Homo sapiens: one gene and its partners. The protein of the gene in region 5 purifies or fractionates together with the protein of the main gene of each other region. This does not show direct contact. Each region holds a gene or a part of one and is shown on either strand. Other genes may lie near its edges.

Region 1 (2,716 bases), on a different chromosome or scaffold from region 5:
GCCAAGAGGCCGGCTGTCTACATTGACGAAGAGGCCTTGGCCCGGGCACAAGAAGATTTTTTCCAGAAATTTGGGAAGGTTCGTTCTTCTGTGTGTAGCCTGTAGCTGGTCAGCCTGCTTCTGCCCCCTCCTGATTTCCCTAAGGAGCCTGGGATGATGTTGGTCAAATGACCTAGAAACAAGGATTCTACCTGAACTGAAAGGACTGTGTGACCTCCCCCAAGCCAACCACTTTCACCTGGGATGACTTTCGATTATGCTTTGTTTTGGGGCTGTATTTTTGAAATACTCTACAAGAAAGCTGTGGCTCAACACATGAGAAGAAGCACGAAGCAGTTAGGCTGTACATCAGACAGAAGGGTAATGCGTGCAGTTCCTGCTGCCTGCAGGCAGACGAGGCCTTTGCTTTACAGCACTGTATGTGTTGCACGATGGATCCGTGACAGCACTTTCCTGTTGCACTGAAACTCTTGGCCATGTAGAGGAAAAGATATGGAGTTATGTGGATTTCATCACTAGTATGTGTGCGTGAGCTGGTCAGTTGCCAAAGGAGGAAATAAGGTTAGAAGCCTGAACCGTTACAAAAGAAGAGCTCACTATGGTCAAAAAGTGATGGCTTTCAGGACTTGTTTTTTATCCTGCCTCACAGTTGTTAAAGTCTGTTCCAAGGCATCACCTTCCTTCTCTACCCAACAACCCTGTGTAACAACTAAAGTAGAATTATCTCTCATTTGTTGTTGTTTTTCCTCAAAATTACCAAACAAAGCAAAAAATACCCTTGTTTTTTATAGTTGAGATGTCAAGAAGTTAAATTGAGGCTTAATGAGCATAGGTAGCTTGTCCAAGGTCTCATGACCAGTCAAGGGCAAGCTGGAGTTAATAATCTATATTTATTTGACTCAGCACTGTTTTCATCACAACTTGTTTTCCCAGCATCATGTAGTGCATTTAGTTTTGTCTTTCTCAGGGTATAGTCAATATGCCTGCAGGAGTTTCTATAGCGAGACATAGAATAGTATTCTGATCAGTTGCCAAAGAATCTAGGAAATTAGTTGTATTTTGTGCAAGCTAATTTAAAAACATGATGGGCTGTTTTAAGACCAGAGTGGAAATTCATGAGAGGAACTATACTACCAAAAGAGCCCAAATGACCAAATCCATGGATAATTGCTTCACAGCCTTGGCCATCCTGGCTCAGCTCTCAATTTAGTATAATATGCAGTTCCTGTGCCTCCAGACTATGCAGCTCATCACCCTAGGTTCTACAGGAAATACAGAGATGAACAACTTTGCCTTCAAAAATGTGCTGCCTAGAAACAGACCTGCATTCAACCAACTGTAATGCAGGATTGGACCATGAATGATATGCTAGAATAGAAGAAAGAGAAGTGTTTTTTTAATTGAGAGCCTCTATGTGCAAGGTGATATATAATCATATCCAGTTTAATCTTCACAATATCCAATGAAGAAGGTCTCATTATCTCCATGATAAAGATGGGGAAACTAAGGTCAGAAGGGTTAACTCAACTGTCTATTGTCACATGATGAATAAATAGATGAAGTGAGATACAAAGCTGGGTTTGATTCAAAGCCCTTACTTTCCTAATTAAACTATGATGCGTATTTATTTTTCTGCACCTTCCTTTCTTCCACAAACACATATTGATAGATGCAAGAGACTCTTATTTAGAAGGCGTGGGGGACAAGAAGGATACAAGGTAAGTTTCAGTGGAGCTCAGAGGACGGGGAGATAGAACTGTGGCACTTAGGGGAGATGACATTTGCTTTGGGCAGAGGCAGCTAGCCAGGACACATTTCCACTATAATTTTACAAAGTTAAATTTATAAGCTAGCATTAAGTAAAGTGAAGTCCAGCTCCCTTGCTAAAAATAACTAGAGGTAATAATTGGTATTCAGGTAACTCATTTACAGTCATAATGTGTTGTGAAAATTTAATCTTAAAAATTAAATTTTTAAACTATGTGGGTCTGTGAATTTCTTTAATGTCTAAGAAATCCAGCTTCATAATTTCCATGATACAAAGATCTTTTTTCAGGTGGATTTTTACCTTTGTTCCTTTTGCTCTGATAGACAAAATCAGTTTAGGACTATTAAAGAATGTTTTGGAATAAACTGTCTTTTTCCTCAATGAATGGGATGTCTAATGTATTTCAAAATCACCCAAAACTTTTGGCAAATAAAAGCATTTAAAAAGACCTTTCTGTACAGGATTTTTAAAATGTTATCAGCTTAGTCTGAAATCTAGAAGGACAAATTTTGTTTCCTTATTTGTAAAGGGGGCAATCCACTGAGCTAAATTGTTTATTTTTCTTGTCACTCTTCCTCTTTCAATTAAACGATCAAAATTGGCAGTTACATGATAAAGGAAGTCAAAGGTGAAGGACCACAGAGAAGTGAGGATGAAAACTTAGAGTGTGTCTGAGAAAATCAAAGCAGATATTATGCCATTAGCTGCTTGTCACTGGTGTTTAACAAAACTTTTCAATCACGGATTTCTCAAAGGCAATCATGAGAAGATCTCATTCATGGTGAAGGAAAGTCTGAATGAGGTGGTTTTCTTTCAGACTTGAAACATTATCTTTCTATCATTCTGCTTGCCAGCATTAGGAAAAATGTAAAACACAACACAAAACACTCTCTTTTGACCATCATTAAGGTGTGGTAAAAATCACTTGGCTTGGTGTAAGAAATAATG
Region 2 (4,128 bases), on a different chromosome or scaffold from region 5:
ACCGGAAGTATTCTCCGAATAACTACTTAGCTGCCACCAGTTCAGGAGTTCCTTTAACCCCACCCCTGGACCTTCCCTGTATGTTCTTAGATGAACCATTCTAACTCCAGAAAAGCAGTAACAGTCCGTCTTGTTTAAGTGACACAAAATCAAACTGCTCCCACATTCACACTGTCAGGGCCACTCAGGAAACCTCACGCAGCCAGGGTTTGGTCTTGTGGACCGAAGTAACAGCAACAGCGAAGTTCTGGCCAGAAGAGGGGAGTTGAAAGCTTCAGGAGAATTGAACATCATTCTTACCCGAGCTAAGGAAGAAATTAAGAAAGTCCTAGATTAAACCACAGGGGCAAACTAACCCCATGTCCTTTTACGGCATAAAGAAGCAGCCTGGATGAGGAAGGAGGCCAGCAGAAAGAAGAGAAGTGACAGGCGGAGAGGTGGCACCTTTCTCTATTTCTCAGACTTTCAAGTGGGGGGAAAAGAGACAAAATACTCAATGCTAACAGTTCTCTGTTTTATTGCAATACAGCAAAGTCTGGTTAATATTAAGTGATATCAACATAAAGTATTGGTGAGGAGTCTTTTGTGACATTTTTTACCATCCCACCTTAAATATTTCTGTGCAAAAGAATCCACATCATTGTTTGGTAGCAGAGGATCTCTTAAAAAGTTCCCTAAGACACTGAGGGCATAAAACCAAACAAAATAAAATAAGGAGTGATAGGCTAAAGCAGTATCTTCCCCTCCATCCACATTTGTCAGCATTATATTCTAACCAAAAAATGATCACACCAGGCCATGCAAAACTGTACAATATTACGAGAAAAACCCTAAAAAATTTATAAAATGAATGATATTACACTATCAAATAAAAAGACAAGTCATTTTGTTTTCATGAGATTTCAAGGTTGATTTGAGTCAGCTTCCCCCGGAACTGCACGGTGTCCTGTGTGGGGAGGGCCCAGCGTGCTGCCAGTGCTGGGGGGCAGGGCTTACACTCCTTATCTAGCAGAAGTGCACAGAGAACTCTGGACTTGAGTAACAAAGTCATAAGGAAAGAGATTTTAAAATGGGCTCCATGAAATGCAGCTCATCTAGTTCAGGGCTGGGCCAGAGAGACGGGGGAGTGGAGTGCCCAATTCATTCCCTGTTGTGCTCACCAGACATGGGCTACGGCAAAGTCTGCTCTGAGCGCCCCTCTGTCTAGATTGGATGGGGAGCCTTAGGCTTGGCAAGGCCTACCTGCTGGGAGACTGCAGTGGTTGTGATCCCGGCCAAAGGCGGCAAATGGCCCTGCTGCGTCTGTGGTTTTGACCTCTGCTCACCCCTGCTCTGGCTTTTCCTTAATGATACCTGAGATGCCACATAAATGTAACCAGTCTTTCTCAGAAATAGACGTGGCCACTAAGTAACAAAATGACATAATTCTAACCTATGGAAGGAGAGAGAGGCTGAGAGCTAGCCAGGAATGATAGATTGTTGCTGTAAACATGACAGGAATTTCAGATTCTCCCCTGAAATGTGAGTACAATAATTGGCTGGAAAACCAAATAGATGGGCTCCTTTTAGTTGTATCTCATAGCCTTAAAGCTGTGCTCCCTAGGAAATAACAGAAATCACTAAGTGTGTTGGGGATGTGTATAAATACATACATAATAACAAAAAATGTAAGATCTACTTTAGCAATCATTTGACAAGAAGCAAGACTTTTGTTTTTGGCAAAAAGAATATATATGTATGTAATTTTAAATACCCAAAGCACAAACATGATTAGTCAGAATTTGAGGGTAGATAACTTGGCTGGACATAGATAGCACCAAATACTAACACAGATAGACTATCCCAGAAATGCCTCTGAATGTATTTTTTCTATTGAGAAACAGGTTTCTGCTGCCATATACGTTTTTAAAATGTCCTGCATGAAAACAAAAGAAAACTTCAGATAGTAATAAAATACTTTATCTGTGAGCTGTGCTACTGACTCCTCTGAATGGTCATTATGTTTTCTTTGCCTAGAACCCACTCCCTGTCTTTTCACATCATTCTTCTCAGAAGCTTCTGGAGGTAACAGGCTTCATATTTAAGGGTGGGATAAACCCAGTAGGATGACCGTTATTTTGGGAAAACCCTCCCCAAAACTATTCCCCCTGGCAGTGTTTCTCTCCTAAAGCCCTGCTTTTAGAATCTGCACGCATTCGGGACTGCTCTATTATGACTGATGAGATTACTTGCCATTGCAGTGGAAAAATCAAAGAGTGCCATGGTGCAATCCATGGGGTGAATATGGACAAGTCGCCCAGTTAGCCTGGCAACCTAGACAAGCCTCAGTAGCTCTCTCTCTCTGCCCTGTTGGGAGGCTGAAGAGTATGACCCATAGCAGTGGAGCTAGACTTTAGGTAGGGTTATTATTTTGATCTTAAAAGCATCCTTTGCAAAATAAGCACCTATAAGCAACAAAAATTCATAATTACTTGTCAAAGCTACAAACTAATGGCTTATGTCAAGTCCTGTTAATCTCGGCTTGGGATGGCCTCCTCCCTGCCTGAGAAGAGAAGGGAGAGAGGAGAAGGCAAGGGGAAAGGGAAGAGGAGGATGGGGAGGGTGGGGATGGGGAGGGTGGGAAGAGTGAGGAGGAGAGGAGGGGAGGGTGGGGAGAGTGAGGAGGGTGGGGAGAGTGAGGAGGGTGGGGAGAGTGGGGAGGAGAGGAGAGAAGGGTGGACAGAAGGGGTGCGAGCTGGTCACGAGCACCAAGCAGGGGGCCGGCTGGCTGACTCCCTTCTCTCACGTGAGGTGCTGAGGACAAGGATCTACCAAGTCATATGACAATGATCCAACTAAAGGGCCAACCCTTGGTATTCAGGTGAGAAAAGTATTTTTATACTTCATTCTAAAAAGCAGAAAGATTTGGGAGATTAGAACTGTGCTGTGAATTACACCCATCCAAAATAAAATATAATCAAATCTGAGCTGGCACCAAACTCAGAATGTTTAAATGTCAAAGCTGTTACATGAAAATTCCCGATTATAGGTGCTTACAATGGAATCCCCAGCAGGATCCTTTCTTCCCTCACTGCATCTCAGAACCTTCTCCACACAGCAGCATCACCTGGAAACAGCCTCAGCTCCCTGCACATGCCGCAGGCCAGCATGGTGGCCACCTCAGTGACACGCAGGTCACCTCAGTGACACAGACGTGGAGTCACAGACAGCAGCAGTGAAATGATGGCCTTAAACACTGCAACTCAGGTTAGCAACTGCAGGAAAACTTTCTTCATTTTCACTGAATTTTAAAGAGAGAATCCTGTCTCTATTTCTCAGAGAAACTTAGGTGAAAAGTAAAAGAGAGGCAAAATCTCTTTCCTTCATGAGATACTTTTATTTTTATCTCTTTCTCTACTCATGTGCTTAACTGGTGAAATGATTCTGTAGAAATAGATCCTTCTGATTCTGCATCTCATTTCCTTATGGCAACTACAACAGGAGGAATCCAGCTGGAAATGCCACTAACCCCACAATCCAGCACCTGAGAGAGGAAGCCAGTCGGAGCGCCGTGCTGGGCTCACTCACTCTGGCCTGCGCACTGGGGTTGTCACATCCATTTTCCACTGGCTATGGGGAATAATATTTGGTTAAGGCTGTTGAAGCCCTTGCTTTTGAGGTTTTACATTATTTGGTAATGAAAGCCGTTTTTTCTTCCTTCCCCAGGCTTATGTGAAGAAGCCCACGCCCACTCTCAACAAAACAGACTCCTCCTTGGGAAGCATCTCCAGCCCTGGGACAGACACCTCGCTGTGACTTAGGGAGGGACAGGATTAGCCCAGGAATAAAAGCATTTTTAGAAATTGTTTTCTGCACCTTCAGAAGCTACAACACTCCTTGTAACCTTTCAGATGGAAGGGATCAGAGGTGACAGAATCGTGTATTTCTACATTTATCTGCGGAAGATAAAATACAATAAAAAGTGAGAAGTGTTCAAATTCCACCACTAGGAAAAGAAACATCTTGGGTAGAGATGAGTTCGCCTTTTGCTGCTGCTGCTGAAGTGGCTTCAAATGTTAAAGCTCTGGTGCCCAGGGCATGCCCCAAACCAGCAAAACCTGGCTCTGCAAGTGTTTTCTACAGCTCCCC
Region 3 (3,500 bases), on a different chromosome or scaffold from region 5:
GGGATATGCCTGTCACAGATACTTATTTTCCCCTCTCTTCTGCAAACTTCCTCCTCTCCAGATTTTTGCACGATAAGAATAGCAGGGAATTCCTCTACTACAGGAAGAAGGTGGCTGAGATAAGAAAGGAAGCACAGAAGTCGCAGGCAGCCTCTCAGAAAGGTAGGTGGACGGAGCGGGTGGGAGATTCTGGGGAGGCCTGTGGACATACCGTGCCCCAATGCGGAATCGGGGTTCCTGGAGGTGCTGGAGTGGCACTGTGTGGCACCGGTGGTTGAGGCCTGTATTCTCCCAGGCATCTGGGGTCACTCTGGGAATGGGTCTGACACCACCTTCCCCCTCAGTGCTCCAAGGACCTGGTGAAGCCTGAGTGTCAGGCCACATTGTGGGGTAGACGGGAGCTCATGGAGGTCGAGGTCGCTTCTGGGAGAGCGGTTCAGGGCAGTACCCTAGGTAGAGGGGGCTTTTGCTTGTTGGTTCTTTGTTACATTAACAAGTGTTGATGAGCCCCAGCTTCCTCCTGGGCACTGAGGACAGGGCAAGGCAAGTGTAGTGTAGGGCCGAGGGCCTGGGGGACAGACACTGTCAGCTGGTGCAATTCTGATGGGATGAATTTCAGGGGAAGGGGAAATACTGGCTGGTCTTTGACTGCAATGACATAAAATCCCAGCCAAGTGCTGGTGGGTTGGTGGGGTGGAATTGATGTTCAGGCCAAGCGCAGGCTGCAGAGGTTTGTTCCTTGTGTTCCCTGTGGCCCTGTGCCCTGAGCCTCTCCCCAGGAGAGGAGGCCCAACAGCACCCCCTAACCATGTGACCTGGGGTGCTCCCATCTGCCTTCCTGCCCTACCCAGACCCGCAGTCACATTTGGATCCTTTGTCCTGGCTCATGTCCCAGGCCCTCTTGACCTCCCTTGTGGGACGGGGCGGGGGTCGGGGGTGGGGGCTTGAGGTGTGTTATGAATTCTGGCATCTGGTCCCAGTGTAGTAATCTGATTCCCATTTGCCTGTTTCTCTTTGCATCATTCCTAAAACAAACCCCACTTGTTGCCCTTGGGGTTCTTAGCAGAAATTAGGCTGTTGGGTGTGGTGAGTTGAGCCCAGTACTGACAGCCTGCTTAAAGTTTCACCCCCAGAGGACGAAGAGGTCAAGAACCTTGCAGAAAAGTTGGCCAGGTTCATAGCGGACGGGGGTCCCGAGGTGGAAACCATTGCCCTCCAGAACAACCGTGAGAACCAGGCATTCAGGTAAGGGGGGCCCTGCCAGGGAGGTGACCGTCACCCTGGCCACAGTCCCCCTGCAGGGGAGGACACTGGATCAGCATAGTCCAGCCACCTGCTGGGGTCCCACTGTGAGAAGCTGGCAGGTCCAAGAGTCTCTGACCCCAGAGCCCAGCTCTGCCTCCCCACAGGCATGTCCCACGCACACACCAGCACCCCTGGGTAGTCTCTGAGGCAGGTGCACGGGGCCTTTGGGGCCTTTGTGTCTTTCAGGTGCCTCATGGAGAAAGTCTCTAGCACTTGCCCAGTTGCCTTTGGGACACACAGCAGCCCTTGGCCGGGGGCAAGTCAGGCTCTCAAGTGGAAATTCACAGTACTGTTCAGTTTATGTTGTGTACGTTCTCAGGGTCTCCCCTTTATGATGAGGGAAATGGCAGGGAATGGGGAACTTTAGGATCTGTGGAGGGGGAACACCCAGCCTGTGTGCGAGTTCCACAGAAGGGTGGGTGTGTGACAAGCAGCCTAGCCTCCCTGCCATCCCCGGCCATGCGGTCGTACCCTAGCCCCAGTGGCTGGGTCTGTGTTCACTGGCTCATCCATTCATTGGGTGGGTTTGGCACTTGCTCTGTGCCCGGGGAGGCGGGTGGGTGCCTGGGGGATGTGAGGGTGACATGCCCGTGAGCACACGCCTGGCCCCAGGTTACACAAGCCCCGACTCAATCAGTGAGGAGGTGTGACAGCACATGACAGTCCTGGGGCAGCAGCTGTCTGGGCTGGTTGATTCAGCAGCCCTAGACTTCATCACAGATGGGGCAACTGTGCTTCTGTGGTCACTGGCCAAGGTCGTGGAGGGTGGGCAGACATGGCCAGGCCAGGTCCAGGCAGACGAGGGCAGTGGGCCACCATTGGGAGGTGGGACTGAGGGAACATGGGGGCTGGGAACAGGGAGGGTCAAGGCTCAGCTGACCCAGTGAATGGGGACGGGGAGAGGGGCTGCTTGGGATTCAGGTGTGCCCCAGTCTGGTACCTGTGTGTCCAGGAGCCTGTGTTGGGGCCGTGGATTGTTTAGGCCTGGAGTTCAGGAGATGGATCTGCCTGGGACTGGAGGCCCCCCCGACAGGTGTCCTGAATGTCAGACTGGCCCTGGGGATCATTGAGTTGTTGACCACACCTCAGGGTTGGATCACTAGTCCACTCCAAGTCATCATGTCTTTCCTTCATTTGCCTGATTAAGGCTATATAAATAAGAAACCTAGTTTGCTGTCATTGTAGGTAGACACTGACTGTGGAACCCTTTCAAAGGAGAAGCAGGCAAGGATATGGAATTCTGTCCAAGGCCCAGAGCCCGGTGGCTCTGCTTGGTCAGAGGGGTCCAGGGCCCAGCCGCTGCAGCCCAGCCTCACCCCTGATGTCAGAACTGAGAGATGCTATTGGTGCAGGTGGCCCCGGCCCTCCTGTGTGTCCTTTCTGTTCTGGGGTGTTGCTGACAGGCGCCCAGCTTGTCAGGTGTGGCTGTCGGGGAGGCCAGGCTGGTTGAGGTCGCCTGGGGTGGGTACCCCGGGCAGCCAGAGGAGACGAGGCTGAAGGGAGCTCATTTCCGCACTCACTGCAGAGCCAGAGCCGGACCAGGAAAGAACTGGGTGGGTCGGGGGGACGACCAGGTATTCAAGCCCCTGCAGGGTGTGCAGGTTTGCTCCTGTGTTTAATCTCCATGCAGGGTCAGCTGTGAGGCAGCCCCAAAGCACAGAAATGCTAGTTAGACCCACATGGTTGGCAGACCTCCCCTCACCCCCAAATCTAACAGCCGCCTCATGTGGCCACTCCTGGCCCTTCCCTGTCACGCCTGTGGGCCAGGCATACCCCAGCCACTTTGGGAAACAATTTGTAACCAACTGCATGGCTATAAAGAAGCTGGAGGCCTGGTGCGGTGGCTCACGCCTGTAATCCCAGCACTTTGGGAGGCCAAGGCAAGTGGATCACCTGAGGTCAGGAGTTCGAGAACAGCCTGGCCAACATGGCGAAACCCCATCTCTACTAAAAATATAGAAATTAACTGGGCATGGTGTCATGTGCCTATAATCCCAGCTACTTGGGAGGCTAAGGCAGGAAAATCACTTGAACCCAGGAGGCAAAGGTTGCAGTGAGCCGAGATGATGCCATTGCACTTCAGCCTGGGTGACAGAGCAAGACTCCATCTCAAAAAATAAAAAATGAGGCTGGGCTTGGTGGCTCACACCTGTAATCCCAGCACTTTGGGAGGCCGAGGCAGGTGGATCACCTGA
Region 4 (3,500 bases), on a different chromosome or scaffold from region 5:
CAAGTATGTGACCCACTCAACATCCTGGAGCTTGAAGTCTTCACTGCTGCAATCATTTCTTTGGCATTTTACTCAGCGAATGAACATTATGGTCAAGTCAAAACCCTTCTTCTTGGATATCACTGTATGGTATGCAAAATAATGAAACTTGTTTGCTCTTTAAAGAAAAGGCTTCCTTCTTTAAGAATCACAGCCCTGGGATCATCGGATAGCATGTTAGCTGTCGCAGCACAGGCATGTGCTTAGAGCTCTTTGTTTTGGCTGCGGTCAAGACTATTCAGATCTCTTCTCTCTGCCCTTTTTAGGTTTGACACCTATAGATCCAAGAAAGAGAGTGAACGTCTGGTCCAGTATTTGAACGCGGTGCCCGATGGCAGGATCCTTTCTGTTGCAGTGAATGATGAAGGTTCTCGAAATCTGGATGACATGGCCAGGAAGGCGATGACCAAATTGGGAAGCAAACACTTCCTGCACCTTGGATTTAGGTACTGCCCCTCACTTCGGCTTCCACTGGGCTCTGGAACATTGAAGCCACTCTATCCCACTGAGAATTTACCTTTCCCATCTCCTCTCCCCACAGCCGTACCATCCTAAATGACCTAGTGGATGCAGGCATTTGCATTTGACATCTGAGTTTGGCATATTTGGGAATTGTTCTTAAAGAATGCTTGTTTTTTCTTACAAGCATAGTTCACTCAAAACAAACAAAAGCTCGCTGTTTATATGAACTCATTCATTCAGTCGGCCACTTACAAAATATTAAGTGAGCATCTACTGTGTGTAAGAGCCATGCCTCCAATGCACAGCTAATATTCATTTTCTCTTTCTTTGGTAAAGAGGTCATGTCATGGCTTGGGGTTTTTCAGAGATTATGTGAAGTGTCTCTGCTGAGGCAAATGACCAAGGAGAAGCAACCCTTTGACATGATCTAATATGTGTTTTGTTTGCCTTGGAGTGCAGCATCATGCCTGACATTGGCATGCACACACATTGACACTAAGAGGAAGCTGTTTGCCCCACAGTAAACAATGCCTTTTTTAAAAATTTAATTTAATTTAAAGTTCCAGGATACATATGCAGGACGTGCTTGTTTGTTACCTAGGTAAACGTGTGCCGCGATGGTTTGCTGCACCTATCAACCTATCACCCCGGTATTAAGCCCAGCATCCACTAGCTATTTGTCCTGATCCTCTCCCTCCCTCTGCCCCTCGCCCCTGCCAAGCCCCAGTGTGTGTTGTTCCCCTCCCTGTGTCCATGGTAAGCACACCTTTTTATCATGTTGAATCAAATCTCAGCTCAGTGGAAAGTTGAGGTTATCTGTCCCATGGCTGTTTAGAGATTACGATGCTCCTCCCTTCAGCTTCCCACATCTGGGAGCAAGATCAGAGGGAAGCCAGAGACTTTTCTGGGCTTGGAGCAAAGCAATTTTGCTGGCTGGGCAGAAATTCCCTGGGCAAGGGAGGGGTGCTCCAGGTTCCAGAGTGCATTTTCCGACAGCCCAGAGACTACTTCTTCTGGACGGGAAACTCAAGCAGGAAACTTAAGCAGCCAAAGATGACAATGACACCTTGGCATTGCAAGCCTCCTTTGTTAGCAAACACTAAGTGCACTTCCATTCTGTTGTTTTATAAACCAAAAGGCCAGTTTATTAATTTACAGTGAGAGTTAGAAACACCAGGAAACTGACTATTTACGGCCTCAGCAGAAGAAGAAAGTGGCTAAGGGCCCAAGATCTGGCATCCAGTGGCCTGAGTTTGAGTCTGGGTTGCACCTTCCAGGAGGTGTGACTGCAGGCAAGTGACTCATTCTCTTTGCCTGGTCCTGCATCTGTAAAATGGGATATACGAGGAGCTATCTCAAAGGACTATAGGACAATTAAATGTGATAATATGAACAAAATATTTGTCATCATGTCTGGCACAGAATAAGCACTCCATAAATGTTAGCAACTATTTTCTCCTTATAAGCAAGAGCCACTGGAAAGGTGGGCACTCGCCGTCTTTTGCCAGGGCTGTTCACATGGGCAAAGGAGATACATAGGTGGGAATTACACGTCCACACCTCATTTGTATAGAGACATTCTTTGAGTGATAAACTTGAAGCATCTAAAATCAGTAGGAGAACTGAGACTTGGACCCTTCATTTGTTCACCCATTCAGGAAATGAACACATACTGGTGGGAGGTACTCGGTTAGACCAGGTGTCCTGAACTCTTGGGGGAAGGCAGGTATGAATGGAAATTGGTGACGGGGCATGAGAGAGCAAGAGAGTGGGCAAGTGTAGTTTAGTGCAGACGAACACATGAGGATGAGGCCAAGCTGGTTCCCATAGAGAGATCAGCAGCTTCGGAGGCCCAGGGGCAAAAGCATGCCTCTCCCAAAGAAGGTGGGGATGGCGAGGCAGTGGCAGTATATGAGAGAGGCAAGGGGTGAGAGGTGAGGCTGGAGGGGGGCGGGGGCAAAGGACCTTCGAATCTGTGCCAAGGAGCTTGGATTTTATCCAAAGGGCAATGGGGAGCTACTGAAGGATTTAAGCAGGAAAGTGGACAGTTAAATCCCCAACCTCAGTTAAACACCGTTCAATAGTGATTCATTTTCCAAGACAAGAGATCAAAACAAGAATAATGAGAGCTATTCAGCACCAAAATCGATTGATAGCTTATAGTAAGAGAGGGCTACTGTAGGGGGGGAAAATCTCTTTCCTTCTACTCTTCTAAGTTCTTGACTGGAGCACCTGCAACAAATCACTGATTAACAGGAGAAAAGCACACAAATGTATTTCAGATAGTAAGTTTTAAACGACATGGGAGCCTTCATAAGGAAACGAGGACCCAAATACACAGTTAAACCTGAGTGTCTGTACACGAGGTTTGATGAAGTGGAGAGCTGTGGGAAAATGTGGTAGGACAAGGGGCTTGAGTTAAACACAGTAAACAGGGGAAATTTAGCAAGGTCTCTGTTCCTTCAGATTCCTCTTGGCTTCCTTCTGTGTTTGGGGATAAGGATGCTCTTTTTCTCAGAATAAGGAAGGCCCTCTCACATAAGGGTCTTAGACCTGCTTCAGGGGAAAGTCAGAAACTCCTTCCTGCCATTTCACAAATTCCTTGAGCTTGAAATATTCAATATGCCAAGTTGCCATTTTGGGGGGTAGCGTCTCCTGAACTTCATTACTGCATTAGGCATTACGCAAAATGCCTAAAACAAAATGGGGTAAGAAAACCTTGCTGCCCTAAAGCAGCACGTGCTTTCATGGAGGAATGATGGATGTACAATTTTTCAAAACCTTAAGCCTTTTTTTGCTTCCCTCCCCATTAAGAAGAAGAGAGATTTCTCTCCTTTCCACGGCCCAAGGCAGATGGCTAGGGCAGTCAGTCATGTTAGCCTCTGGTATTTTCCTCGAGCTCAACTCTAGGGGAGCTGAGCATGAGAGAAATAACCTTTCTCTCTTGGAACATGTTTTCCTGAAGGTATCCAAGCATTTGCTTCAGGACATAATTGAGC
Region 5 (3,500 bases):
ATGTAATTTTAGGTATAGGTAAGTGGCATTTCTCGGCCTACAAACAGTTAAAATGAAAGATTAAAGTAGTGTTTAAAAACGATGACTGGTAGCTCACTAGGTATAAATATAGTTTGACACGGTCCAGATCACTTAGTGTAAGTTGATTAGGCTCTGTCAGTGATAAGGAGAAGGCTCCCATCGCTTTCTGGCTCTGGATTAGTACTGAATAGACTTTTTGTGGAGCTTAATTGCATAGAAGGCGGGAGACAGTGACTTGTGGCAATGTGTGTCATGGAGTGTAGAAGGAATTTGTTTACTACAGAACCAAGTGATCTCTTAAGATCCCCATAAGTTCTAAAGTTCTATAATTCTTTTACATTTGACATTTTCAAAATTGAGCAAACAGACCTGTGTTTGAGTCGTAGGTACTGGAGTGAGAAGGAAATCCACGATCCACGTTGAGAAGCCTGCCCACTGTTCATGGGAAGCCAAGTTTCCCTGGCAGTTAATTCATTAAGAAAGTACCGTGTGACATCACAGGCTGGGAGCTTGAGAGATGTGCTAGCTAATCCTCACATCCTTACAGCAGATACAGTAGTGGATTATCAGATTGCTCTGTGAGCAACTCCCCAGAAGCCCCCTCAGACACAGTGGAGTGGACACTGTGACACTGTCAAGGAAACCAAAGACCAACCTCAGCGTCTGGCAGGTGGGAGGCCCCTCAACATCTCTCCTCCCACAGGACCTCGGTTCCCCTGGATGGTATCTGAGACTGCTCAGCTCACCAGCAGGAGCCAGCAGGTCCAGCCCAGGGAGGTGGCCCCTTTGTGTCTGGAGGGGCTGGGAGCCCCCGCTCCAAGGCCTGGCTGGTGGAACGTGGTGCCCACTGGCCTCTGGCTGGCTCAGTGGCCTGTGTTCCTGTGTCTTATCAGGGCCAGCTCTGTCCATAGTGCCTGGGTGGCAGGGAGGGACACTCTGCCCTGTGAGTCACTCTGTGCCCATGTAGGAACCAGTAGAGGGCGGCTGGTCTGAGGCATGCTGGCACCGACAGAATCGAATACACAAAAGGAGAGTTGCTGTGCTTTCCTGGGGACAGGAGGGGACCGGTTTCAGACCAGATCTGCCTGTAGAATGAGGCTCTTCATCTTGGTGAAAGCAGCCGCCCAACTCTTTTTTTTTTTTTTGAGGTGGAGTTTTGCTCTTGTTGCCCAGGCTGGAGTGCAGTGGCGCGATCTCTACTCACTGCAACCTCCGCCTCCCGGGTTCAGGCGATTCTCCTGCCTCAGCCTTCCGAATAGGTGGGATTACAGGTGTGCACCACCACGCCCAGCTAGTTTTGTATTTTTAGTAGAGACGGGGTTTCATCATGTTGGCCAGGCTGGTCTTGAGCTCCTGACCTCAAGTGATATACCTGCCTCAGCCTCCCAAAGTGCTGGGATTATAGGCATGAGCCATCACACCTGGCTCCAGCTCTTTCTTTTGTTTCCCTGAATGTTGGGAAAGTTCTTTCTTTTTCCACCAGAGTATTAAGACACTAACGTTAAATGAAGACTCTAGTTAAAAATCCCTTCAGAAAAGGGAGAAAAAATTGGTGGTCTCCACAGGCCCAATTCTGTGAATCTCTGTCTGTAAAGAACAAAATGAGGCTCTGCCAGTTGGTGTTACACTCTCTTTTCAGAGTCTGTTAACTCCTAAGGTGTCTTTAGGTGATTGGTATTTGGTGTACTGTTCGTGTTGATCATATTTTCATCTATTTTTGAGCTTTATGTTTTTCTATTATTTGCCTGGTTGTGTAGGCTTTGCATGTGATAAACTCTGTTAAAAAAAAAAAAGTGGAGGGCCTGGCTTGAACCCAGGAGGTGGAGGTTGCAGTGAGCCAAGATTGCACCATTGCATTCCAGCCTGGGCAACAGAGCGAAACTCTGTCTCAAAAAAAAAAAAACAAAAACAAAAACAAAAAACAGGCTGGCTTTAGGCTACTTAACACTTGTTATGTCATATTGCAAGAAGGGACCATGGTAGAAAGATCAATGGCCCAGTTCAATCCCAGGCGGCAGGGCCTCCTTAGAGCAGAGCTGCTGAGCAGGGAGGTTAAGGGATCGTGTTGGCATTTTCAGGCTGAAGCAGGTGAGTCCAGTTCTCCAACCAGCGCTCCCTGAGCAGGGAAGCCCTGTTCATGGTTGCACAAGAGGAGCCAGAGGGGAGTGAGTGGAAAGAGGCTGTCCTGCAGCAGCAGGATTTGGGGTCATGGAAGAGCTAGGTCCCTAGGCTGTTGCTTGGACAAAGCCTATGCCTTTACATGGTTTTTTTCAGAACTGCCACTTGGCAACTTTCTAGGCTTTGCATTTCTCCTTGAAAAGTCTGGTATGGTGAGGGGAACCAGCCTTGCCTGAGTCCTAGCCTAGCCCTGTGCGAGCCCACAGGTGAATGTGGTCCTCTCAGAGGCTGAGTGACTTGCCCAGGTCACCCAGCTAGCCAGGGCAGGGAGCTGGGATGAGACCCCAGCCTGTACCATTCAAGTCTGCATTTTCTTGGCCAGCTCCTCCAGCAAGCCTCTTTTCAGTTTCATGGTTTTCACTCTGAACCATATTAAGGTAAAAGCAAAATAGACACATCTCAGCAAATGATGAAAGTTCTTAAATTGAAACAAGTTGCAGAAAAACCTCAAAGCAGCAAAACACATTGCAGTCCCCAAGGACAGAGCCTGTGGCCCGGCAGGCCCTGGGCAGTGCCTTGGGGGCTGTGCTTCAGCAGGAGGCTGCAGAACCCTCGATGTCTGCATGCAACCTGGACAATTGGAGACGCACAGGCTTCGAGTCTAGGCCCAGCACTTCCCGTGTCAGTCCTGTCCCTTACAAACAGAGATAATCAAGCTCTTGGGACATAACTGGTAAACTTTTTCCCCACAGTAGAAAAGTTCTAAGTAGAAGTTAGGAACTTTTGCAGAGAGAGCAAACTACAACCTAAAAATCCACATTTTAGCCAGGTGTGGTGGCATGCACCTGTAGTGCCAGCTGCTTGGGAGGCTGAGACGCGAGGATCACTTGAGGCCAGGAGTTTGCAGCCAGCCTGGGCAACATAGTGAGACCGTCATCTCTTAAAAAAAAATATACATTTTTAGTTAAAGGCAAAGTAAAAACATTCTGGTCATGTTCCTGGCCTGTCAGCTTTTTATAAAACCTCTTGTTAATACTTGACCCACAGTATTTTCTCAGATAGCCAGGGTCTAGTTGGGCTCAGTATGATTTCGCACTGGTTAATAAACCCTGCCTGGACAGTGCCTGTGGCTTCCTCTGCCAGAGGGGGGAGGCAGGTGCTATGGAAACCCCATAGAATATTAAGTTCGTTCAAATGTAGTGTAAATAAAATCCAGCATGATGAAAGTCCACAAGAGGCCTGACTGTGAGTGACAGCAGCAGTAGTTGTACTTATAGCGGCTATGAGGACTCATTAATTATGCTGCTGTAATTCCTGTGACGTAAAGGACTTTGGAATTTATACAGTAATGTAGAAGCCTA
Region 6 (3,500 bases), on a different chromosome or scaffold from region 5:
CCCTGCAGAAGGACGGGAGAGGCTGGCTCCTTGCCAGATATGGGATCCAAGCTGCCTGCCCACTCACTGGTGACCTCTATCTGGGCTTCTGTCCCGGCCTCCCCCAGGGACTCAGTCACCCCAGCTATCACCCTATTCATGTGCAAAGAGCTGGTGTCCTTGCCCATCCCTTTCTCAGGATCCCCAATGAACTGACCCTCTGTACCCAGAACCACAGGGCCGTCACATCCTGAGCCCTCTGCCCATGGGAGCCACACATCTCCCATCGTGGCTACCACAGAACGGGCCCCGGAGAGGATTTCTGGAGGCGATTCCTTGGGGCTGTCCCCTTCTGGGCTGGAGGGTGTGACAGAGAGCCCCTCTTCACCCTCCCCTTCATCATCAGGGTCTTCGGTGTCCTTGATGAGCTCCACGCCACGCCCCAGCCGGGCATAGTGCAGCGTGATCTCCTCAGCCAGGGCGCTGTTCAGGGCCCGCTCAGGGCCAGGCCACTTCAAGATCAGGTCGCGGTCCGTCAGTATGCCCAGGGGATGGCTGGGGGACATCCCTCCATCTGTGGAGCCCTCCCCACCACCCCCTGCCCCACCCGCAGCCACAGCAGCCCGTAGGCGGCTCAGGTGAGACAGGTAGAGCTGCTCCAGCTCCTGGTCGATGGTGTCCTCACCGAGCAGCTCCTCTGACCCACTCACAGCCTCCAGCCCCCCTCCATTCTCACTCGATACTCCCCATGTGGCCTCTGCCTGCTGCTGACTGGGCTCCAGGAAAGGCCCGGTGGCCCCCTCGCTCGCATCGGGCCCTGAGGCCTGGTCTCTGGGGGAGCCACCCAGGCCACAGAGAGGGGAGGAGGGGGGAATCCTGATGGCCGGTGCCTGGAGGACCTCTGTAAAAGCCACAGGTGGACTGCTTCTGGGGACATCACCTTCTTCTGCGGGGTTGCCAGTCATCGGAACGTCAGAAACCTGGAGCCATGGCCGGGGCAAGGGGGCAGAGAAAAAGCAAGGGAATGAAGCAGAGGAGGGGATGGAACAAGCAGAGACAGTAAGAAGTGTGACAGCCCACAGCCAGCCCCACAGGGGTTTCTATATAAAAATGCCTTAAAGCGCCCTCTGTCACTGTCTAGACTCCAAAGACTGTCATCTATGGTAAAATAACACAATTGGATGCAGTAAAACAGGGCTTCTTGCAGATTATAAAGCTGAGGAATTCGGTGGGTGTGAATATTTGGTGAATGATCATCACTAAATACTGCTGGCTTACCTTCAAAACAGAGCCAGTTAAAATAACTAAAAGTGTAAGTAGCCAGGCACAGTGGCTCTCACCTGTAATCCAAGCACTTTAGGAAGCCAAGGCGGGCGGATCACATGAAACTAGGAGTTCGAGACCAGCCTGGCCAACATGGTGAAACCCCGTCTCTACCAAAAATACAAAAATTAGCTGGGCGTGGTGTTGTGCGCCTGTAATCTCAAGAGGCTGAGGCAGGAGAATCACTTGAACCCAGAGGGCAGAGATTGCAGTGAGCCGAGACTGTGCCACTGCACTGCAGCCTGGGCGACAGAGACTTTGTCTCAAAAAAAAAAAAATAAAGAGTGTAAGTGGATTGTTTGTAACACACAGGATAAATGCTTGAGGAGATGCATACCTCATTCTCCATGATGTGATTATTACACAATGCATGCCTATATCAAAACATCTCCATAAATATATACACTTACTATGTCCCCTCAAAAATTAAAAATTAAAAAAATTTTAAAAAAAATAAAATGCAAAAAAATCCCAAAACATAGCCAGGATGTCCATATGAACCCATGATGTATCATCTTCTCTTTAAAAAACAATTATTTCCTAGCTCCATCTTTTGAAAGGGCCTAGAAACAATGACCAATCTAGTAGCAGCAAGCATGCCGAGCCCCCAAATCTTGGCCTTTGAATGCCACTCTCCACTGAAAGGAATCAGTGCTCCTTAAAGAAATAGCTGTTTCTGGCCAGGCTCAGTGGCTCACGCCTGTAATCCCAGCACTTTGGGAGGCCAAGGCAGGTGGATCACCAGGCAGGTCAGGAGTTCAAGACCAGCCTGGCCAACATGGTGAAACCCCATCTCTGCAAAAATACAAAAATCAGCCGGGTGTGGTGGCATGTGCCTGTAATCCCAGCTACTCAAGAGGCTGAGACAGGAGAATTGCTTGAACCCAGAAGGCAGAGGTTGCAGTGAACCGAGATTGTGCCACTGCACTCCAGCCTGGGCGACAGAGAAAGACTCTGACTCAAAAAAAAAAAAAAAAAAAAGAAAGAAAAAGAAAAAAGAAAGAAAGAGAGAGAGAGAGGAAAGAAAGGAAAGAAAAATAAAGTAAAAGAAAAGAAAGAAAGAGAGAGACAAAGGAAAGGAAAGAAAGAAAGGAAAGGTAAGGAAAGAAAGGAAAGGAAAGAAAAGAAAGAAAAAGAAAAAGAAAATAAAGAAAAGAAAAGCAAGAAAGAAATGGCTGTTTCCAGGCTTGGGGCAGGGAGAGTACAGGATGAACCTAGCACATATTGTCATGGAAGATGTGAGAAAGGCTCACAGAATGATGAGGGCGTGTCAAAAGGACAGAGTAGCCCATCTCAATAAGCTCCTACTAGCCAGGGATAGTTCAATTTAAGCATCAAAAAAAGCAAACAAATAAGTGCAATGGATTGAAACTCATTCAAATATGTTTAGAATTCATGAGTTCATAATGACACAAAACCAAAAATCCTTTTATTGGTCACCTTTGTAGTAGTACTTCTCTGAAAACTGGTAAATAAAATGGAAAAAATTAAATATTTACACTGCTTTTTCTGCACAAACTATATCTCAAAGTAGCCAAATAGCTGGTGTGGGACAGTTTTTCTTTAGAGAAGAATTCTAGCTAATAAAGGAAGTGGGAATAATAGAATTAAATAGAGTTAATTCTAGTTAATTTAATAATAAAAGATTAAATACATTCGTTTAATACAATTTGATAAATTAAATAAATTTAATAAGATTACATTAATTAATATAATTAATAAATTAATAAAAATGGAGTAAGAAATGTATTTCCACCTGGATGTAATCAGCCAGACCCAGACTGGAAAATTCTACAGGACAAGCAAAGTTTCTTCAACCAACAAATTGCAAAGAAACAAAGTGGGGGAGATTTTAAAAATCTAAAGAGACACATCAATCAAATGCAACATGTCAACTTTGTTTGGATCCTAAACACTTATGAGAGAAGAAAACTTGAACACTGACCAAATACTTGATGATACTGAGGAATTACCGTTTATTTTCTAAGGTGTGATGATAGTATTGTGGGGTTAAGAATTCTTAATTTTCTGGCCAGACGTGATGGCTCACACCTGTAATCCCAGCACTTTGGGAGGCCAAGGCAACGGATCCCGTCTCTACTAAAAATACAAAAATTAGCTGGATGTACTTGCTTGAACCCAGGAGGCAGAGGTTGCAGTAAGCTGAGATCACACCACTGCACTCCAGCCTAGGTGAC
Region 7 (3,500 bases), on a different chromosome or scaffold from region 5:
CTGGGATTACAGGCATGCACCACCACACCCAGCTAATTTTGTATTTTTAGTAGAGATGGGGGTTTCACCACGTTGGTCAGGCTGGTCTCAAACCCCTGACCTCAGGTGATCTGTCCACCTTGGCCTCCCAAAGTGCTGGGATTACCAGCATGAGCCACCACGCCAGCCTTGGTTATAGTTTTAAATGTATTTTTCCTTTATCAACATTGGGATGCCTGTGGTCTAAAGAGTCAGGGGTTCTCAAAGCCTTTGTGAAATACAGTGGCCCTCCAGCCCACCTCTCCCTATTTCCTGCTCAATTCTTTTAGCCGATCTTTTGGTTATGTACTCCCCATATCTGTAAATATTCTGCTTATCATATTGTTCCTTGTTGATTTTCAAGTTGGGGTCTTTCAGGTGGAAATGAAGCATTCGTACCTTCACAACCACTTCCCGTCCAGGCAGTCTCCCCATCTGTATTGCAGTTGTAGTTAGGTCAGTATCTGTACACTGACATTATTATGACCATGGAAATAGACGTGGACAGCTGAACCATCACGGATAGAATGAGTACTCTAACTTTCTCGCCCAGCTTTTGTTTTCTCTGGAGTTAATATTTGTCTTAATATCTGTTTGCTTGACTTTTTTATGTCAATGATACTAATGATAATGTATCTCCAAGCCCTTTCCCTGTCCAGTGAATCTCCTTTCAACACACATCAACTAGTCTATCAAGTTCATCTTCTTGAGGCGATCTCTCCCAAAACCTTCTGCCTGCTTCCCTCTGAAGTGGGGGCTCTTGCTTCCTACACTGCCCATCTTGGCGTCTTTCTTCACTGTCGACCCAAGGGGTTCTTTCACCCCTGTCGATTGGGTGCCCCGTTTCCTGCTCCTGCATCTTTATTCCTCTTTGCTTTACTCTTTGGGCAGAGCAAATCTTCCAATTGTTTCTGAAAAAAATATTGCAAAGGAAATATTTCTAGGGGGATCTTGCCCATCTGAAAGCGTATTTATTTTACCTAAAACATGATTGATAGCCAGGCTGGGTGTAGGGTTCTAGCATGGAAGTGATTTCCCCTGGAAATGCTGAAGCCACTGCTCTATTGGCACCTAGCTTCTGGGCTTGCTGCAGAGAAGTCAGTTGCCATTCCTTTGTTTTTTCTTTTTGGAAGTTAGCAGGATCTTCTTTGTTCCCGTGTTCTGAAATTTCATGGGATGCAGGTTCAGTATGCCTTTCTTTTTTTTTTTTTTTTTTTTTTTGCCACCCCACCCCCGCCCCCCGAGATGGAATCTCACTCTTTCACCCAGGCTGGAGTGTGGTGGCACAATCTCGACTCACCGCAACCTCCGCCTCCTGGGTTCAAGCAGTTCTCCTGTCTTAGCCTCCCAAGTAGCTGGGATTACAGGCATCCGCCACCATACCAGGCTAATTTTTGTATTTTTAGTAGAGACGGGGTTTCACTATATTAGCCAGGCTGATCTCAAACTCCTGACCTCATGATCTGCCCACCTCGGCCTCCGAAAGTGCTGGGATTACAGGCGTGAGCCACCACACTCAGCCTGCCTTTTAGACTAGAAACTCATGGCCGTTAATTCTCAGAAATCATGATTTCTTTGATCTCTTCTGTTTTCTCTCTTCACAGACTTTTTTTTTTAATTCAGAGACTGTTTCTCTGATTTTCTAACCCTCCTATTGTTTTCCATTTCTGCTATCATTTTTAACTTCCAGGAGCATGTATGCTCCCTGAAGTTTCCTCACAGCACTCTGCCCTGACTCATAGGTACAGTACCACCCTTTTCTCTCTGAGATTTTTTTTTTTAATCTTATTTTACTGTATTAAATCTTACTAATATTCTGTAAGGGACAAACCAGACGAGTAGGCTACAGTGAAGAAATCTTATTTTGGAGAGTTAAGAAACCACTATGATACTTCCAGGTATTATCTTCAGTGATGCTTCTTATCTTTATTCAGGGACTCCAGGTAATATTCAGCTCCTACAGCTACCACAAATGCAGCAAATCCCCATTTGAATCCTTTAAACAATACATCAAAAAAGGAAACACTCTTTGCAAAGCCACCCATGTATCTTCAAGCTTCATTGTGGCCCCACGGATCCCTTAGCCCTTTTTCAGCCAGCTTCTTCTGGATAGTTTCTAATGGTGTCCCTTCTGTCTTCCGTTGTCTGTAATCTAGAAGTTCCATTTTACGATGTCCATGCTCATGTCCATGTCCATGGGCCATGTCTGACAGCAATCTGACCTCTCAGGACACTCAACTCTCTCTCTCTGAGATCTTAATGGTAGTTTTCCATATGTCCTCTACATCCTTTATAACCTCAGTTTCTTCCATCTTAATTTGTTTTCTACCTGCCTTTCATATTAGAGGCAATTCTCAACTGTTTGGTGTTTCTTGGCTATTTGCTGGTGTTTTGGGGGGTGCACTGAAAGCTGCTGGATGCACTCTTCATTGGGGAAGAGCTTATCAACATAGGTTCCACTTCCTGGAGAGTGACCAGGCTGCTCCCCTTTTGTTGGGGAATCTTTCGTGTCAAGGTCTTTAGATCTTTTCTTTAAAGTTAAGTGAGATTCCCCAGAGAAAGCTCCCCCAGTCCACTGTTCAGAGGGGGTGAGTCCCGCTGCCAGAGTTCTACGGCTGAGTGGGAGAGAAGGGCTGGGCTGTGGGATCCTTCCCCGAAGCTCCCTATTCTCTGTGTGCTGCCAGTGCCCCAACTGTGCAGACTGCCCCCAGTCTAGGCACCTGTAACTCTGTCCTCTCTTGACATGAAACCTTGGAATGGAGGGGAAACTGTGACACTCCCTTGGCCGAGGGGAGAGGGATTCTCAATAACTGCTTCTTGAAGAGACTTCAACCAGCGCTCCTGTTTTCATAACCCGCTTTCCTGCCCCCACTCCTGTAAGTGCGCAAGGTCACTAAGGCCCGAACCTTTGGGTGATTCCGTAACAGTGTACACTCGGTCACCTTCCAGTATTTCCATGATGTCTTAGCATTTGTTTTTCTCTCATGCTGTTAGGCACTGATCATTCATCAGCTTTCTGGCTTCTGAAACCTTGTTGCTGTCATCCTCTTCTTGTTTCCTTTGTCCTTGTGGGATTATGCTTTAAAAAAAAAAAAAAAAAAGAAGATCTCTGCTTTTGTTGTAGTAGATTTCAGAAATATCATCATCAATACGCATCTTTAACTAGAACATAAGCATTTCATTTCCTTCTGGGGTGACTCCACTCCGGCTTCTCCATGACTTCCATCACTTTTTTTTTTTTTTTTTTTTTGAGGCTGAGTCTCACTCTGTCGCCCAGGCTGGAGTGCACTGGCACAGTCTTGGCTCACTACAACCTCTGCCTCCTGAGTTCGAGCGATTCTCCTGCCCTGGCCTCGTAAGTAGCTGGGACTGCAGGCGCCCGCCACCACACCCGGCTAATTTTTGTATTTTTAGTAGAGAGGGGGTCTTGCCATGTTGGCCAGGCTAATCTTGAACTCCTGATCTCAGGTGATCCGCCCGCC

Evidence for each region.
Region 1: the proteins of PYGB (region 5) and EPM2A purify together in Homo sapiens (affinity purification with mass spectrometry; one large-scale study listed by BioGRID and IntAct). This does not show direct contact.
Region 2: the proteins of PYGB (region 5) and CDC42BPA fractionate together in Homo sapiens (co-fractionation; one large-scale study listed by BioGRID). This does not show direct contact.
Region 3: the proteins of PYGB (region 5) and SUGP1 purify together in Homo sapiens (affinity purification with mass spectrometry; one large-scale study listed by BioGRID and IntAct). This does not show direct contact.
Region 4: the proteins of PYGB (region 5) and CEMIP purify together in Homo sapiens (co-immunoprecipitation; one study listed by IntAct). This does not show direct contact.
Region 6: the proteins of PYGB (region 5) and PPP1R3F purify together in Homo sapiens (affinity purification with mass spectrometry; one large-scale study listed by BioGRID and IntAct). This does not show direct contact.
Region 7: the proteins of PYGB (region 5) and WARS1 fractionate together in Homo sapiens (co-fractionation; one large-scale study listed by BioGRID). This does not show direct contact.

Annotation. Positions count from the first base shown.
Region 1 is NC_000006.12:145,624,805-145,627,520, reverse strand, and holds the end of EPM2A (laforin), read left to right. Parts: coding exon 1-105; 3' UTR 106-1,796; coding exon of another isoform or gene 1,797-1,826; 3' UTR 1,827-2,216; downstream 2,217-2,716. UniProt on the Homo sapiens protein: Plays an important role in preventing glycogen hyperphosphorylation and the formation of insoluble aggregates, via its activity as glycogen phosphatase, and by promoting the ubiquitination of proteins involved in glycogen metabolism via its interaction with the E3 ubiquitin ligase NHLRC1/malin.
Region 2 is NC_000001.11:226,989,365-226,993,492, forward strand, and holds the end of CDC42BPA (serine/threonine-protein kinase MRCK alpha), read right to left. Parts: 3' UTR 501-4,128; downstream 1-500. UniProt on the Homo sapiens protein: Serine/threonine-protein kinase which is an important downstream effector of CDC42 and plays a role in the regulation of cytoskeleton reorganization and cell migration. Regulates actin cytoskeletal reorganization via phosphorylation of PPP1R12C and MYL9/MLC2.
Region 3 is NC_000019.10:19,300,010-19,303,509, reverse strand, and holds part of SUGP1 (SURP and G-patch domain-containing protein 1), read left to right. Parts: intron 1-61; coding exon 62-162; intron 163-1,121; coding exon 1,122-1,245; intron 1,246-3,500.
Region 4 is NC_000015.10:80,883,870-80,887,369, forward strand, and holds part of CEMIP (cell migration-inducing and hyaluronan-binding protein precursor), read left to right. Parts: intron 1-305; coding exon 306-485; intron 486-3,500. UniProt on the Homo sapiens protein: Mediates depolymerization of hyaluronic acid (HA) via the cell membrane-associated clathrin-coated pit endocytic pathway. Binds to hyaluronic acid.
Region 5 is NC_000020.11:25,254,585-25,258,084, forward strand, and holds part of PYGB (glycogen phosphorylase, brain form), read left to right. Parts: intron 1-3,500. UniProt on the Homo sapiens protein: Glycogen phosphorylase that regulates glycogen mobilization. Phosphorylase is an important allosteric enzyme in carbohydrate metabolism. Enzymes from different sources differ in their regulatory mechanisms and in their natural substrates.
Region 6 is NC_000023.11:49,283,293-49,286,792, reverse strand, and holds part of PPP1R3F (protein phosphatase 1 regulatory subunit 3F), read right to left. Parts: intron 960-3,500; coding exon 1-959.
Region 7 is NC_000014.9:100,365,348-100,368,847, reverse strand, and holds part of WARS1 (tryptophan--tRNA ligase, cytoplasmic), read left to right. Parts: intron 1-1,804; exon of another isoform or gene 1,805-2,260; intron 2,261-3,500. UniProt on the Homo sapiens protein: Catalyzes the attachment of tryptophan to tRNA(Trp) in a two-step reaction: tryptophan is first activated by ATP to form Trp-AMP and then transferred to the acceptor end of the tRNA(Trp).